2 linked regions of the Homo sapiens genome follow. The protein of the gene in region 1 interacts with the protein of each later gene in a biochemical or structural test. Each region holds a gene or a part of one and is shown on either strand. Other genes may lie near its edges.

What was found. Proteins that work in one complex are often made in the same cells at the same time.
Region 2: the proteins of KCNA10 (region 1) and POMP form a complex in vitro, tested with the Homo sapiens proteins (one study listed by BioGRID).

What each region holds. Positions count from the first base shown.
Region 1 is NC_000001.11:110,515,538-110,521,248, reverse strand, and holds KCNA10 (potassium voltage-gated channel subfamily A member 10), read left to right. Parts: upstream 1-2,073; 5' UTR 2,074-2,461; coding exon 2,462-3,997; 3' UTR 3,998-4,032; downstream 4,033-5,711. UniProt on the Homo sapiens protein: Voltage-gated potassium ion channel that mediates K(+) permeability of excitable membranes.
Region 2 is NC_000013.11:28,672,630-28,676,129, reverse strand, and holds part of POMP (proteasome maturation protein), read right to left. Parts: intron 1-3,500. UniProt on the Homo sapiens protein: Molecular chaperone essential for the assembly of standard proteasomes and immunoproteasomes. Degraded after completion of proteasome maturation. Mediates the association of 20S preproteasome with the endoplasmic reticulum.

The DNA.
Region 1 (5,711 bases):
CACTCCTAAGTGGTGGGGCAGAGCCTCACACCAGGTCCTTGTCCTCAAGACGGTTCTCTTTTCTCTTTGTTTTAATGATTAACATTTGCTACTAATGGGGCAGGTGGAGCCGCCTGCACAGCACACTTCTGTAGACCACGGAATATGCTGTTTGACCTTGGCACTGTCTGCCACCTCCTCACCATCAGACCCTCATCAAACACCCTCCTACCTGTCACTTGACCTGGGGGTGGAAGTGACAAAGAGGAACCTAGGAGGCAGGGAGAAGGGAAATGGCCTGGCTCCCAAAAAAGGAAGTTAATTATTTGGCCAAAGAAGCTCTCCCTAATCCCCAAATGCTTTCTGCTGCTGGCCTCCAGAGAAGTTCCTGATAAGGGTCACTCTAGCCTTGGCTAGAACCATGGAAGTGGTTCCCAAACCTTGCCCAAAGCTCACTGATGGTACTCATTCCTCTCAGAAAGCGGGACTGATTCACACCTGGAAGATAATCATCAGGGAGCACCATCTGCGGTCCAAGACCCCAAAGGAGAAAATGGTGCTCCGAAGACATGAGATCAACACAGAGCTGGAGTCCCCCACCCACAGCCATCCAGCTGCCAAGCAGTTCAGGACAAGGCCCCCAAATCATCATGCGAATTACTGTGAAGCTACATTTCTCCAGGGCTTTACCATGTACAGAGCCAGGATTTGAACTCGGGTGGACTGATTCTATTCTCAGATTCCATCCTGCCTCCCAGCCATCCTACTGCTCACCGAGCCTTGCAGAGCAGGCTGGCACCTGGCATGCTTGGCAGTGGGTACATCCTTCCTCATTCCACAACTGAGGAAGCAGCAGCTCCGTGAAATTAGGCCGTTTGCAATGGCCACATACTCCTGAGAGGTAGAATGGGTACTCTACCAGTGCTGACCAACCAGACTTGAGCTCATCATTCAACACATGGCACCTGAACTGAGAAAAGGGGTCATGGGATGGAAAGAGCTCTGGACCCCTGACAATTCTGTGGCCCTAGCCTACAGCTCCCCACAAGGCTCAGCTCCTATATAGGGACTCCATGGTCTAGTGGGAAAGGCCCTGGGCCAGAAGGCCATGGCCAGGTTTAGGTCAGGACTCTGTAGCACTAGTTATGTGACCTTAGGAAGTCACTTTGTCCCTGTGACTTGGTTTCCGCATCTGCAAAACAGAGATAACATCTAACCTCACGTGATTATTGTCATCTAGTGAGATAAGTGAATGTGGAATCACTTTGAAAAGACTACAACACTACACTGCAGGATAGCCTTGTCGCCTGTAAAGGAAACCTCTCCAAGGCTGTGACCACTACAGATTTTGCCTGAGGTTAAGTCCCTTACTTCTCTCCCACTCCCACCCCCAGCCTGCCTGGGTTCAGTGTTCTTAAATTGAAACTGAAGCTAGAATGAACCTGAGGAAAGAAATATTAGTCTATGTGTATAGATGTCCAAGCCCACTGGGCATGATTTCCTAACCCCACCTCCAGCGTGCGCGCGCACACACACACACACACACACACATATACACACACACACACAGACACACACAATTATTTACTTCCTTCCCACCTAAAATGATTTCTCAAAATGAAATTACTTCCTATGGACACCTTGGACTCAGGCCAAAAAAAATTCCAATTGCTGGTAGTTTCTAAAGTGCTTGTTATGTGGGAAAGTTGACAAAAAACAATAGCTATAATATAGTGATCTTTCTTTCCACCAAGCATTCCATACGTGTTATCTCATTTGAGGTACCTTCAAAACAACTCTAGGAGTTATTTCCAGGTGAGGGGTCATTTAGAGGACATTGTCGATTGGCCAACCCAGCGTCTTGTTTTTCCTTCCCTAAAGAATCCCCATTGGGTTCATAGATCTGGTTCCACCCTTCACCACTTGGTCCAGAAGCAGGGGTGGAAGTGATGCAAAATGGTTGAATTCTAGATATATTTTGAAGACATGACCAAAAGGATGTGTGAGGGACTGGCTGTTGGTGTGAAAGAGAGGCATTACGAATGAGATTGGGCATGGAGACGTGTTTGGTGAGACAGAAGGCTTCATGCAAATACAAGATCATGCTTTTTATTATTAAGGAATGTTAACTTCCTCTTTTAGTATGGCCCCTCTGCCATCACATATGGAGACCATCCTTTGCTGGGGAGAATCTCCCCTTCTTTGCCAGGATCCTTTTTTTGCAATTTCTCCTAGTTATTAGTTTATGCAAACTCAGGGGTACAAAATGATTTTAAGGGAAGCATGCTGCCAAAATAACCATGACGTTCCTTCCCAAGCTACAAATAAGTCATTGATTAGCCCATTGGTGTACCTTACCTCAATAAACAAGGGCCAGTTGTATTCTGCCCTGGATCTTGTATAATGAACTTCTTCTTCTCCATAGCTCACAGCAGGCAGTGAAGGCTGAGGATCTTCATGCTTCTTCCCTGGCTCCCCTAGAATGGATGTGTGTGGCTGGAAAGAAATGGAGGTTGCGCTGGTCAATTTTGATAATTCAGATGAAATCCAAGAAGAGCCAGGCTATGCCACAGACTTCGACTCAACCAGCCCAAAAGGCCGGCCTGGGGGCAGCTCCTTCTCCAACGGGAAGATCCTCATCAGCGAAAGCACCAACCATGAGACGGCCTTCTCCAAGCTTCCGGGAGACTATGCTGACCCCCCAGGGCCTGAGCCAGTGGTCCTAAATGAAGGAAACCAGCGGGTGATCATCAACATTGCTGGGCTGAGATTTGAGACCCAGCTCAGAACCCTTAGTCAGTTCCCAGAGACTCTCCTGGGAGACCGGGAAAAAAGGATGCAGTTCTTTGACTCCATGAGAAATGAGTATTTCTTTGATCGGAACCGGCCCAGTTTTGATGGAATCCTATATTATTACCAATCTGGTGGGAAAATTCGGCGCCCAGCCAATGTTCCCATTGATATCTTTGCTGATGAAATCTCCTTCTATGAGCTGGGTAGTGAGGCCATGGACCAGTTCCGGGAGGATGAAGGCTTCATCAAAGACCCTGAAACACTGCTACCCACCAATGACATCCACCGTCAGTTCTGGCTCCTCTTTGAGTACCCTGAAAGTTCCAGCGCTGCCCGTGCTGTGGCCGTGGTCTCGGTGTTGGTTGTGGTCATCTCCATCACCATCTTCTGCCTGGAGACACTGCCAGAGTTCCGGGAGGATAGGGAGCTAAAGGTGGTCAGAGACCCCAATCTCAACATGAGCAAGACAGTCCTCTCCCAGACCATGTTCACCGACCCTTTCTTCATGGTGGAGTCTACCTGCATCGTGTGGTTCACCTTCGAGCTGGTGCTCCGGTTCGTGGTCTGCCCCAGCAAGACTGACTTCTTCAGGAACATCATGAACATCATTGACATCATCTCCATTATCCCCTACTTTGCAACTCTCATCACAGAGCTAGTCCAGGAGACAGAGCCGAGTGCCCAACAGAACATGTCCCTGGCCATCCTGAGGATCATCCGCCTGGTGAGGGTCTTCCGCATCTTCAAGCTCTCGCGCCACTCCAAGGGGCTGCAGATCCTCGGGCAAACACTGAAGGCGTCCATGCGGGAGTTGGGGTTGCTCATCTTCTTTCTCTTCATTGGAGTCATCCTCTTCTCCAGTGCAGTCTACTTTGCTGAGGTGGATGAGCCAGAGTCCCATTTCTCTAGCATTCCTGATGGCTTCTGGTGGGCAGTGGTCACCATGACAACTGTAGGCTATGGGGACATGTGCCCGACCACCCCAGGGGGGAAGATTGTGGGCACTCTGTGTGCCATTGCAGGGGTCCTCACCATTGCCCTCCCTGTGCCTGTCATTGTCTCCAACTTCAATTACTTCTACCACCGGGAGACTGAGAATGAAGAAAAGCAGAACATCCCAGGAGAAATTGAAAGAATCCTCAACAGTGTAGGCTCAAGAATGGGCAGCACAGACTCTCTTAATAAGACCAATGGTGGCTGTTCCACAGAGAAGTCTAGGAAATGATCAGTCCAGGGCTTCTTGGGTCCATCCTGTCTCTCTTCTCTCTTCTCTCTCTCTCTCTCTCGCTTTCTCCCCTCCTCTCTCTCTTCCTTCTGCCTTCCCTTCCTCCCTTCATTCCTTCCTCTTTCCCTCTCCCTTCTCTCATTTCATCTTTCCAAAGATCAAAATGTATCTTTTGTGATCAATAACTATCTTTGACTACAAGCTATTTTAATAAGCCCATACTTCTACTGTATTTTCTAAACTGTTTCTTTTCAATACATTATAGAAAGATTTGGATCTCTTTTCCTATGAAGGGATAGTTCAGGTCCCCAGACCAGAAATACTGGTATCACCCGGGAGGATGAAAATGCAGAATCTAGGCCTACTCTGACCTACTGAATCAGAATCTGCAGTTTAACAAGATCCCAAGTGATTCGTTTGCATATTAAAGATTTAAAAGCACTGGTTTTGGTCTTCCTACGAGGAAGCATATGAAAAGACCAAGGGTTGCTGTGAGCAAAGAGGAAGAGCTCAGAGTTATTCAATTACAATAATAATAATACCTTGTACTTGTGTAGCACTGCATAAATTTTCCAAAAACACTTTCACCTACATTATCTCACTGCATCTTAGAATAATCAGATTTGATTATTATTTGATTTGATTATTATTCCCACATTACAGGTGAACAAACCAGGGGAGAGCAACTTACCTAAGGTCACCCAGAAACAGTGATATAGTCAATGCTGTCAAATCTCCTACCTACTAGCCCAGTGCCCTTTCCACTAATGAAGAAGATGTGTCAGAATTGGGGGAAAGGTGAGAGGAGTTTGAGGGGACTTTCAGAGGGTCCAGGCAGCAAACCTCTGGGCAGAGACACCCTTCCCCGGATGCTTCAGGATCTCCTCACAGCCTGGGAAGGCAGCATCTCCCTGACCCCTTGCTCCTCAGCCCCTTTTCTGGATAGTGGACAAGCAGAAACATCCCTCGATGTTTTCACCTGGCTCATCTCCATGGAGTTACACAAAGACTGGGGATCCTGAGTGTGGGAACTGTGGGCCCTAGAGAACTGCTCCAGGAAAGTGCACTTGTCCACCTGCCTCGAGGTTCAGCTCCCATTGAGTCATCAGGAATTGGCCAATAGCCTGTGGAGCTGCTGGGAAGGGAAGAGCAGGCTTCCACGTCATGTGCCCAGGCCCCAGGCTTACTCAAGGAGGATGGTTGTAGCAGGCCGGCCTAAGGACTGCCCTCCTAGGAAAGGAGGCTGCTCAGTCCTCCAAACTCCCAGAATGAGGGAGTAGAATTGGGATTCCCCAAAGGACAGGGAAAGAAGCCTCCACTCTGTCCCTCCCCCATCTACCCGGTCAAATAAGGAGGCCTTGTGCTGTCCTCAGTCCCAGCACCCAACATGTGGCCACTCAAAGATGTGTCAACACCAGAACAATGCCCCTGGGCCACAGCTCCACCTCACACAACTCCCAACACACTGTCCTGGCTGTGTCTGTCAGGGTTCTCCAGAGAAACAGAGCCAATAGGGTGTGTGTGTGCGTGTGTGTGTGTGCATGTGTGTATATTTATATGTGTACATATATATACAGAGAGAGAGAGATTTCTTGTAGGGAACCGGCTCACGCATTTATGAAGGCTGAAAAGTCCCATGTCCGCAGGGTGAGTCAGCAAGCTGGAGATTCAGGAGCACCATGGTGCAGTTCTGGTAGGAAGGCCAGCAGGCTCA
Region 2 (3,500 bases), on another chromosome or scaffold:
AGGAGTCTGAGGCAGGAGAATCGCTTGAACCCGGGAGGCAGAGCTTGCAGTGAGCAGAGATCGCGCCACTGCACTCCAGCCTGGGTGACAGAGAGAGAAAAAAAACAAAGCCATGTGATTCCCAGTGCGGAAGGTGGCCCTGTAGGGAGGTAACTGGACCACAGAGTTGAACACTTCATGGATGGTCTAGCACCACCCCCCGGATAAGTGAGTTCTTGTTCTGAGTTCACACAAGTTCTGGTTGTTTAAAGCTGTGTGGCAGCCCCCTCACTCTCTTGCTCCCTCTCGCCATATAATTCACTGGCCCCCCTTTGTCTTCTGCCACGATTGTAAGCTTCCTGAGGCCCTTACCAGAAGCAGATACCAGCACTATGCTTCCTGTACAGCCTGAGGAACCATATGCCAAAATAAATTTTCTTTACAAATTACCCAGCTTCAGGTATTTCTTTATAGCAATGCAAGAACAGACTAACAGTAGTTAACGGAGGACTCTCTGAGTAATATTTAGGTTGGGATCTGAAAAATGAGGGTAAACTATTTGAGGCAGAAAGGAACAGCTAATTCAGGTCCCTAAGGTGAAGCCCTAAGTTAACCGTATATTATGCAATAACAGTTCCCACAAGAAAAAAACTACCCCAAATACAGTGGTCTCACTGTAATCATCTACCAGGTGGATAAAAATCATCTACCTGGCCGGGCGTGATGGCTCACGCCTGTAATCCCAGCACTTTGGGAGGCTGAGGCGGGCAGACTACCGGAGGTCAGGAATTTGAGACCAGCTTGGCCAAGATGGTGAAACCCTGACTCTACTAAAATACAAAATTAGGCAGGTGTGGTCGTGGGCACCTGTAATCCCAGCTACCTGGGAGGCTGAGGCAGGAGAATTGCTTGAACCCAGGAGGTGGAGGTTACAGTAAGCCGAGATCGCGCCACTGCACTCCAGCCTGGGTGACAGAGCTAGACTCGTGTCTCCAAAACAAAAAAAATCTACCTAAACAGGTGATTTTTCCTAATAGCTACCTTAGAGAGACACAAGGAATGAATTTTAAAAGATGCCCACAAGATAGCAAGTGGCTTATTTTTTATTTTTTGAGATAGGGTTTCACTCTGTCGCCCAGGCTGGAGTACACTGGTGTGATCCCTGCTCACTGTGGCCTCAAATTCCTGGGCTCAAGTGATCCTCCTGCCTCAGCCTCCTGAGTACCTGGGACTACAGCTGCACACCACTATGCCCAATTAATTTAAAAAAAAAAAATTGTAGAGACAGGGTCTCATCTTACCCAGGCTGGTCTCAAACTCCTTGGCTAAACTGATCCTCCCACCTCTGCCTCCCAGAGTGCTGGGATTATGGATCTGAGCCACCACATCCAGCCAGCTAGTGACCTTTTTAAACATATAATTCCATCACATTACATCCTTACTTAAAACTGCTCAATGGCCTTTTTTTGCATTCTGAAGAAATTCTAAACTTCTTTTCATGGTCTGTAGGCCCTGATTCATCTGTTCCTTGCTGAGCTTTTTGATCTCAACCTTATTCTACTCTCTACTTTGCTCAAAACATGCCAGCCATATGGGCCTTCTTAAAGTGCTCTTATATATGCTGGGAGACAGTTCTCTATTGGTCTCTCCATTCTGCAAGCTGGGAGCAGAGACACTAAACTGCCTTTGTTCTAGGCTATCTTTCCAAAGCCGTTTCAGCCTCATAAGACAAAGCAGCACAGGACAGGCAGGTTTACTGCCAGTTATAAGGCTGAGGTGGCCTGAACATGGAGTTCCTCTCCTCTAACGTAACACACTCAATGTACAAGGCTTCACCTTACCCTCTTCTTAGCTGCCCCATAGGAAGTGGGGCTAAGGGAACCAAAAGAAATGCTGATACTCTGGCTACGCTATTGCTATGAATAAGAAACTGTCCTTTAGGAGTCTCTTGTCTTCTGCCAGCATCCATGAATTCATGGCAGGCTAACAAGTTAGCTTCAAAGTAGAGTAAGATCTCAAACCGTTCAGAGTTCTTCAGCTGTTCTCAGGTTACATACCCTGAACATACTCATCTCTTCTGTCTGAAATACTCTCCTTCTACTTCTAGGTCAATGATTTCATGTTTCTTTCAGAAATTCACTTCTGTGTTGTATTCCCAGAGGTATGTGCCCTCCCAACCCAAAAACATCCTTTTTATTCCTAGAATTATCAAATTGTATATTTGTGTTTATGTGTTTATCTCCCCCATTTGAAAGCACAGATATTTGTTTTGTTCACAGCTGTATATTCAGAGCCTAGCCCAGTGCCTGACACATATTTGACTGACTAGATAAATGCTCCTAAGTCCCTCTCCCTTTCTTTAAACAGAATTACAGAAGCAGATTTTTAAATGAATGCTTTTGTAACTAAAGACCTGAACTATCACCTTAGTAGTTTTAAATAAGGTCTAAGTTCAATGTAAAAGCTTAAGAATCCCAGCTTTTCCTGCATCCAAAATGCTCCCTCAGGGAAGATTCTGAAAGGAGGCTCACTAGACTTCTGTTATGTCCACAGCATTTCCTTACCGGACATCAGCAGCCAAGCAAAACTAATAAAACTTAATCCTGTTGGATATTTTTGTTTCTCCTGCACTGCTGGGGCATAACGAGCAGAGGCAGCATTGGACAGGATTGTATTTGTTTATCTTCCTCAGGACCAGAAAAAATAGAGGATGCTGCATATATTGTTCTTACTTAAATTCATTTACAATTATTCAGGGAATTTTATTAAAAATAACAGATTCGGCCGGGTGCAGTGGCTCACGCCTCTAATCCCAGCACTTTGGGAGGCCGAGGCGGGCAGATCACAAGGTCAGGAGTTCGAGACCAGCCTGGCCAACATGGTAAAACCCCGTCTCTACTAAAAATACAAAAATTAGCCGGGTGTGGTGATGGGTGCCTGTAATCCCAGCTACTTGGGAGGCTGAGGCAGGAGAATTGCTTGAACTCAGGAGGCGGAAGTTGCAGTGAGCTGAGATTGCGCCACTGCACTCCAGCCCGGGTAACAGCACAAGACTCCATCTTGAAAAAAAAAAAAAAAAAGACAGATTCCTCTTTCCTATTTATCACCTGTAGAAGTACAAAAATTACTTTTTTGGGGAGCTACTTTTTAAAGAAAGATTTATTTTCCAGTTGTTTAAAATGCTAGTCAAAAAACCCCAAAATCAAACTAAACACACAAAAACAACACCAGTCACATCCCAACAATGTGAATTCTGAAATAATTATCATTGTTTAAGTCACCCTAGGAATATCAGACTGACATATTACACTTGAAGCTCAGGACATGAAGTGAATAACCACCATTACTAGACTGAAATGACTATGTACTCTTAGAATTTCATAAATAATTTTCACTTTTTTTCTTTTTATATTTTTAGTAGAGACAGGGTTTCACCATGTTGGCCAGGCTTGTCTCAAACACCTGACCTGAGGTGATCTGCCCACCCCGGCCTCCCAAAGTGCTGGGATTACACGTGAGCC